3 separate regions of the Homo sapiens genome follow, and all the other regions are linked to region 3. The links come from fine-mapping of genetic effects on gene expression. A gene starts in region 3. Each other region holds a variant in brackets. All regions are shown on one strand. Distances are from middle to middle.

What was found. PIP is the estimated chance that this variant, and not a neighbour inherited with it, causes the effect. A credible set is the group of variants that fine-mapping cannot tell apart.
Region 1: its variant is the best candidate, but not a certain one, in a credible set for the expression of CAMLG in prostate (GTEx, PIP 0.53).
Region 2: its variant is the best candidate, but not a certain one, in a credible set for the expression of CAMLG in whole blood (INTERVAL, PIP 0.63).

Annotation. Positions count from the first base shown.
Region 1 is chr5:134,582,805-134,585,563 of GRCh38, forward strand. It overlaps JADE2 (jade family PHD finger 2), which reads left to right. Exons shown (of 12, transcript NM_001388185.1): 12 at 1-423. Among named protein-coding and RNA genes, the nearest start is that of SAR1B, 49 kb to the right of the region's middle. The variant G/T (reference allele first, on the strand shown) is at 1,712.
Region 2 is chr5:134,625,173-134,627,931 of GRCh38, forward strand. The region is part of intron 1 of SAR1B (secretion associated Ras related GTPase 1B); the gene reads right to left. Among named protein-coding and RNA genes, the nearest start is that of SAR1B, 6.3 kb to the right of the region's middle. RefSeq lists an enhancer at 1,278-1,422 and a cis regulatory region at 1,344-1,357. The variant CAAAAAAAAAAAA/C (reference allele first, on the strand shown) is at 1,126.
Region 3 is chr5:134,737,209-134,739,967 of GRCh38, forward strand. It overlaps CAMLG (calcium modulating ligand), which reads left to right and starts at 1,340. Exons shown (of 4, transcript NM_001745.4): 1 at 1,340-1,584. The coding sequence starts at 1,413. RefSeq lists an enhancer at 928-977.

The DNA of each region.
Region 1 (2,759 bases), 150 kb before region 3:
TCAAAGAAAGTGATGTGCCATTTGTTAATATACAAGAGAAATATTGAAAATATATTGAAAAGAGCAATTTTAAATTATTTTTGGCTTATGTTGCAATATTTATTTTCTTGTATTAGAAAAGATTCCTTTGTAGAGAAAAAATGTATTTTTCATTAACGCAAAGACCTATTTCTCCTTTTTGTACATTGTCCATGTGCGCAACCCTTAACGAGCAATAGAATGTATGGTCACCTGGGTGTGGCCAGTGCCCGCTGTGCCCTGCATGATTCTGTGTTGCCGCTGCTGCATAGTTCCCAGCCCCATCCTGTCCTGCTCACTCATGGGGGCTTCCAGACCCCGGCCCCACCAGGGCTTGTGTCATAGGGAGCCCTTTGCACTCCTCGTGTGTTGGCAAACGCAGTTAATAAAGCAGTGTTTTCTGTGCTGGCTGGTGTGAGGCTCCATTGCATTGGATGGGGTAGGGAACCCTGGGAGTCCCACACACACACCCGACAATGGGCTCAGCAAAACCACGGGGTCCCTGAGTTTTCCAAGGGATCAGCTGCCACCTCCTAAGGAATCATAATAAAGATGTTCAGTGCACACCAAGGGCTATAATTTCAGAGCAGTATTTATATTTTTCATTATTATTATTATTATTATTATTTGAGACAGGATTTCACTCTGTCACCCAGGCTGCAATCTTGATTCACTGCAGCCTTGACATCCCGCGCTCAAGCTGTCTTCCCACCTCAGCCTTCCGTGTAGCTGTGACTACAGGTGCATGCCACCATGCCTGGCTGATTTTGGTAATTTTTGTAGAGACAGGGTTTTCCCATGTTGCCCAGGCTGGTCTCAAACTCCTGGGCCCAAGTGATCCGTCTTCCTCGGCCTCCTGAAGTCCTGGGACTACAGGCGTAAGCCGCCCCTAGCCTCAGGGCAGTATTTCATTTGATCTTCAATATGTTCCCCTGGAATTGAGAGGATGAGGGATGCACCTAAAGTCGAAGATGTGCTAAGAGGTAAAGCTCTGCATCCAAGGCAGGACTGCTGCACTCCCCACCTGCTACAACCACCTGTCTGGGACCGTAGGAAAGTTTGGGAGGAGCCTCCAGGGAGTGTCCCTAGGTCAGTGAAGATTTTTGCTTGAGTTTGTTTTTCATTCATGATTTTCTGAGCACCTACCCTGAGCCAGGCTCTGAAAAGAGTGTGGGGAATATAGCTGCTGTCCTTGCTTGGGGTGGCTCACACAGGCAGTGAGGGAACTGGGAGTTTTCATGGAGGCCTGGGCTGGTCTAGGGGTGAAGGGGTTCAGGAAGGGTTTCTCTGAGGAAGTGACACCATTAATTCATTGATTCATTGATTCATTCAACAAGTAGTCTTGACCGGACACCTCACTGCCAGTGTGCTGGGTTGTATACTGTGCATGTCACCAGGCCCCTGTCCCCCTAGAACCTCCAGACATTGGAGACCTAATGAAAAATAGTTGCTAGCCCAAGGGAAGCTGCATCGGAGAAAGGGATGACGGGCATTCCTCATAGAGGGTTTGGCCTATGCAAAGATGGATCAAGCTATATCGGGAGGGTCTTGAACCTCCTCTGAGGGCTCAGAACAAGGCTGTGAGGGACAGAGGTTACATTAAGACTCAAAGCATCTTAGCTTCTGGGGCCACTGACTTAGTTGTTTGCCACAGAGAATTGACCCATTTCCTCTCCAGAGCAGTAGACGGTAG[G/T]TTCCCAAGGGTGCCTCCAGATCCAATGTTCTGAGTCCACAATGCACAAGGTATTGGAAGTAAATTTGGGGTGGAGTGTGTGTGTGCCCAAAATGCCCGTGGAGGGAGGTCTCCCTGTTAGGGCACCTGGGAACCTGGAAAAACAGGCTGTGGATGTTCTCTCAGCCCCAGCTCCAGCAGCTCAGCTGTGAATGGGAAGAGCTCAGCGTCCTCAACTGTGGAATCAGCATGGGATGCTGGCAGGAAATCAGCCCTGGGGCTGAGGGGGTATCTGGGTGGCCAGCCCACCTGGCCATGGTAAGAAACTGTCAGCCCCATGGCCCAGCTGCCGTGGACTTGGCACCACAGCTTCTCCCTCCTCCTGCAGCCAGCCCAAAGCAGGACCACAGTGATCCAGAAGAATGACTCAGGCTTGCCCCTCACTCTAAAACCACACCTGTGTCGGCTGGGCCAGGTGGCTTATACCTGTAATGCCAGCACTTTGGGAGGCCAAGACAGGTGGATCATTTGAGGTCAGGAGTTTGAGACCATCCTGGCCAACCTGGTGAAACCTCATCTCTACTAAAAACACAAAAAATTAGCCAGGTGTGGGGATGCACACCTGTAATCCCAGCTACAGGGACTAAAGGGAGGTTGAGGCAGGAGAATTGCTTGAACCCGGGAGGCAGAGGTTGCAGTGAGCCAAGATCATGCCACTGCACTCCAGCCTGGGAGACAGCGCAAGAGTCTGTCTTTAAAAAAAACAAAAATAAAAACAAACAAAATAAATAAATAAAACCTCACCTGTGAACCTAACCCAGCTGATAAATGTAGGGCAGGGGGATTCAGGGTACATGTTGGTCTGTTCTTTAGAAATATAGTGCAAGTCACATTTGAAATTCTAGTAGCCCCATTTTTAAAAAGTGAAAAACAGGGCCAGGTATGGTGGCTAATGCCTGTAATCCCAGCACTTTGGAAGGCCGAGGCAGGAGGATTGCTTGAACCCAGGAGTTCGAGACCAGCCTAGACAACATGGCAAGACCCCATCTCTACAAAAAAAAAAATTTTA
Region 2 (2,759 bases), 110 kb before region 3:
GAGCAGAGCAAGCATTACAATAGCTACTATGGGGAATGAATCAAGTTAAAAGACTGCCAAAAAAAGCCAAGGACTCAGTTGGAATTGAAACTCAAACATTCACAGCAGTGCCAATCTGTGCTGATTTCCAACCTTCCACCCTCCACCAGCAGTGCTCAACATGGAGTGACTAGAGATTAGGAACATCCAGAATAGAAATGAAAAAGGACAAGGGGAACAGGATTTTGAGAGTACTAGTGAGAGGGCTGTAGGGATCTGATCAGAAGTTCAAGTTGAGTGGACAAAGGTAAAGAAAGGTAGTATACAGAGATGGAGCGGTGATCAAAGGCAGGCTTCTCAACAGAACAGAATTGGGAAAATAGGGTAGAAAAAGTCTCTAAGCCAAAAACAGAAAAGGGTGAGAGAGGTGAAAGGAGTGCCAGAATTGTGCCAGCAAAGTGGAAGAGAATATAGGGGGTTCAAGAATTCAAGAGAAGTTCAGGGTTGGGTGGTGGCAAACTCCAAGGCCTGGCTCTGGCATGGACGATAAAGAAAAATGGAGGTGACAGATACTGGAAGCCAGGCTAGAGGGTACACTGTCCACATTGACAGGCAGTGTAATCACCTGGAAGACTGGAGGGCACTGATACAGACTGTGAATCAAGTGGCAAAGTCCTCACTGAAGATGATTGTTGGTAGGTGAGAGCTAAAGAATGGTGAAAAGCCTTGACAGAAAAAGGATTTTTTGCATAAGGATGGTACCAATTTGCTGTTGTAAAATTTGTCCCAAGAGAGATAATCTAAGAAGACACAAACTCTGCTTTGGAAGATAATAATATATATATTTCTTTAAAATTGTGGTTTCAGCCAGGCACAATGGCTCACACCTGTAATCCCAGGACTTTGGGAGGCTGAGGCGGGTGGATCACCTGAGGTCAGGAGTTCAAGATCAGCCTGGCCAACGTGGCAAAACCCCATCTCTACTAAAAATACAAAAATTAGCTGGGTGTGGTGGTGCACACCTGTAATCCCAGCTACCCAGGAGGCTGAGGCAGGGGAATCACTTGAACCCAGGAGGCAGAGGTTGCACTGAGCCGAGATCGAGCCACTGCACCACAGCCTGGGCCACAGAGCAAGACTCTGCCT[CAAAAAAAAAAAA/C]AAAAAAAAAAAAAAAAAAAATGTGGTTTCTAGGAACCTTAAAACAAACTAGGAGTAATTAGAAACAGAATTAACTGTTTTTTTATTGTTATTTTAAGTAGAAGTAAAAATGCCCAACTAAGAATAAAAGTTACTTAGCTGCAAACAGATACCTGAGCCCAGAAAACAGGTTACACAACACCATGAACACACTATTAAGACATGTGAAGAGCAAAGGTCAAGAACAAGGAAACATACACACGTCAGCAGATTTATTTATTGCACCAATACCAAACAGGAAAAGTCTCTCTGCAGATTAGAAAAGTGATCTACTCAAGTAACATGAAAACCAGTGCAAAGGATGTAATGGAACAGAATCTCAGATTACAAGTAACTTCTTAAAGCCTTGTTCCATTAAACTACATGGATGGCTCATTTAAATGAAATATCCTGGATAGATAAATCCATAGAGTAAGTATATTAGTGGTTGTCAGACTGAAGGAAGGAAAAATGGGGAATGATTGCTAATGGGTACTGGGTTTCTTCTTGGGATGATCACATGTTCTGGAATTAGATAGTGGTGATGTTTACACAACAATGTGACTATACTAAAAACACTTAATGTACAATTTTAAAAGGTCGATTTTATGGTATATCAACTATATCTCAAAAAAGCTATTATAGAAAAATTTTAAAAGCAAATTTTAAAAAGCTTATATGGCATTTAATATTTAAAACTGATTTACATGAGTAATTACACAAAACCATTTACTTTTTTTTTTGAGACAGAGTCTCGCCTGTCGCCCAGGATGGAGTGCACTGGCGCGATCTCCTCTCACTGTAAGCTCCACCTCCCAGGTTCACGCCATTCTCCTGCCTCAGCCTCCCGAGTAGCTGGGACTACAGGAGCCTGCCACCACGCCTGGCTAATTTTTTATATTTTTAGTAGCGACGGGGTTTCACCATGTTAGCCAGGATGGTCTCGATCTCCTGACCTCGTAATCCGCCCTCCTTGGCCTCCCAAAGTGTTGGGATTACAGGCGTGAGCCACCGCGCCCCGCCACTTTTTATTTTTTTGACAGAGTCTCCCTCTCACCCAGGGAGCGCCGTCTCTGCTCACTGCAACCTCAATCTCGGGGACTCAAGCAATCCTCCCACCTCAACCTCCTGAGTACCTGGGGGCTACAGGCATAGGCCACTATGCCTGGCTCATTTACTTTTTAAAACCGGCCGGGCGTGGTGGCTCACGCCTGTAATCCCAGCACTTTGGGAGGCCGAGGCGGGCGGATCACGAGGTCAGGAGATCGAGACCATCCTGACTAACACGGTGAAACCCCGTCTCTACCAAAAATACAGAAAAATTAGCCGGGCGTGGTAGTGGACGCCTGTAGTCCCAGCTGCTCGGGAGGCTGAGGCAGGAGAATGGCGTGAAACCAGGAGGCAGAGCTTGCAGTGAGCCGAGATTGCGCCACTGCACTCCAGCCTGGGCGACAGAGCGAGACTCCATCCCAAAAAATAAATAAATAAATAAATAAATAAATAAATAAATAAATAAAACCACACATTAAGGGCCGGGAGCAGTGGCTCACGCCTGTAATCCCAGCACTTTGGGAGGCCGAGGCGGGCAGATCACCTGAGTTCGG
Region 3 (2,759 bases):
TCTGATTTTATTTTATTTATTTCTTTTATATATGTATTTTTGAGACGGAGTCTCCCTCTGTCGCCCAGGCTGGAGTGCAGTGGCATGATCTCGGCTCACTGCAATTTCTGCCTCCCAGGTTCAAGCGATTCTCCTGCCTCAGCCTCCCAAGTAGCTGGGATTACAGGTGCATGCCACCAGGTCAGGCTAATTTTTGTATTTTTAGTAGAGACGGGGTTTTGCCATATTGGCCAGGCTGGTCTCGAACTCCTGACCTCAGGTGATCCGCCTGCCTCGGCCTCCCAAAGTTAGGATTACAGACGTGAGCCACCGCTCCCGGCCTTTTTGTTTTTTTCTTTTCTTTTCCTTTTTTTTTTTTGAGACGGAGTCTCGTTCTGTCGCCCAGGCTGGAGCATCTTTAGCATGCGAGGTGGTCATGAACGACAAGGAGAAAAAACAAGGTGAAGGGGAATGGGGAGTGTTGGCAATTTAGATAGAATGTGCACGAAAGGTTTCAATGGGAAATTCTAATTTGAATAAAAACGCACAAAACGCGAGGAAAGCCTAGGAACACATCAGCCGTATACTTTGCCGTAGAGAAGTTAAGGATGAGGAACAGGCACCAAGAACAAATCCCAGCGTAAGGCTCCCTTTAAGTGCGGCTCCCAGGGTTACGTATTCCCATTGCCTACAGGCGAGGCCGCGGGTCTGTAAACAAGCGACTGCCGCTGCAACCTCCATTTTGCTTCCTGGCACCAAATCTAGGCTGACCTACTTACTGCCATCCCTTTCCCACTCCCGGTTTTCTTTTCTTTCTTTTTTTTTTTCTCGAGACAGAGTCTCGCTCTGTAGCCCAGGCTGGAGAACAGTGGCGCGATCTCGGCTCACTGCAACCTCCGCCTCCTGGGTCCAAGAGATTCTCCTGCCTCAGCCTCCCGAGTAGCTGGGATTACAGGCGCGCGCCACCCCGCCCGGCTAAGTTTTTGTATTTTTAGTAGAGACGGGTGGGGGGAGGGGGGAGGGGGTCACCATGTTGGCCAGGCTACTCTCGAAATCGTGACCTCGTGATCCGCCCGCCTCGGCCTTCCAAAGTGCTAGGATTACAGGCGTGAGCCACCACTCCCGGCCCTGGGTGCTGGTTTTCTTCACCTCCGAGTGAACAGCAGAGGGGGCTGTTGGGTGAGGGCCAGAAGAGTTGGGGAGGCACGAGGGCGTCCAGCGCTGCCCTCACTCAAGATGGCGGCCAGAGCCTCGCGCTTGGTCGCGTGGGGCGGTGCGTGAGTGCTTAGCTCACAGGCTCCGGGACCGCGCTCGGGGGCGGGTCTATAGTGGGAAGGGGACGCGCGCCCTGCGGCCCGGCCTCTAGTCATCGCCCTCGCAGCGGCGGCCAACATCACCGCCACTGCCACCCCTCCCAGACTGTGGACGGGAGGATGGAGTCGATGGCCGTCGCTACCGACGGCGGGGAGAGGCCGGGGGTCCCAGCGGGCTCAGGTCTGTCGGCTTCCCAGCGTCGGGCGGAGCTGCGTCGGAGAAAGCTGCTCATGAACTCGGAACAGCGCATCAACCGGATCATGGGCTTTCACAGGCCCGGGAGCGGCGCGGGTAAGAGCCTCGATTTCCCCTCAGTCTCCCGCCCATCACCTTGAATCTTCAGGGTCATTCTTCCCTCTCCCACCTCCACTCCTCTGACCTTTTTGACCAAGCCTTGCTCTTTGATTTCCTCTCTGTCCCGCCCCTTCGGTGATATCCCAAGTTCTCATCCCTGAACCCCAGGATGTTCCTAGTCGCTCCCCTCAATTTTCCCGGGGCCTCGCCGTGAGATTTTCCCCACCCTGCCTGCAGAGCTCTCACTCCCTCTTCCCAGTTACGTTGAACAGCCCCTTTTTTCCTTAGCCACTCCTCGCCTTTCTTGAAGGGCGCACGTTGTATCCCCAGACTGTCATGTCTACTGCTCCCCTTAGGAAGATGGCTTTCCTTCTTAAGGTTCCAAGTGCTTTTCCTTACAGTGCCTTCTCTAGCGTCTACCTTCTTTTGCCTTTTGCTGTGTAACTCCTGTCCGCCCACATCAGCCTGTCTTTACTGAACTGCCCGCTAGTTCATCCTACGTGTATCAGGGACTCTTGTGCTCATATCCTAGTGTTTGTGTTCAGTGCCGTCAACACTGTCACCTACGGGCCGGCTAGAAAAGGTGGGAAAAGTGAGAGTGAGCATTCTTCAGAGACCCAGCAAGTGCGAAGTGCACACCTGAGAGTTTCCTCTCCTCATGAGGGGATATTGTTGTGATTGATGTCTGGAGCTGCATTTCTAAGGAGAGCGCCTCCTTCCTCCCCCAAACACATGTCCAATGATTTTCTTTAAAAAAAATTTATTTCACGTGAGTATAATTGAGCAATTAGCGCGCCCTAGTGTTATCTAAGTTTCCAGTGTTTCCTTTAGTAATTGGCCTTTAGTCACTGGTCGCAAGCTCCTTATATCTTTGTGACTTTTGTTCTGTAAGGCTTTAGGTGTATAGCTCTGAACTTTTAGGCAGTTCAAATGAGAGGTAAGAAAACCATTTCAAATTCTTCTAGAACAATAGAAGAAACATTTTTCTATCGGGCTATTTATTCTTAAAGCATTATTTATGATCTTACCTGAGGTACTTTCTATATTTTGTTCTTTTGCTTTGAAAATTTTATGTCTTTAAAGGTTGTTTTATTTTTTGAGACAGGGTCTCCCTCTGTAGGCCAGGCTGGAGTGCAGTGGCATGATCATAGCTTACTGCAGCCTCAAACTCC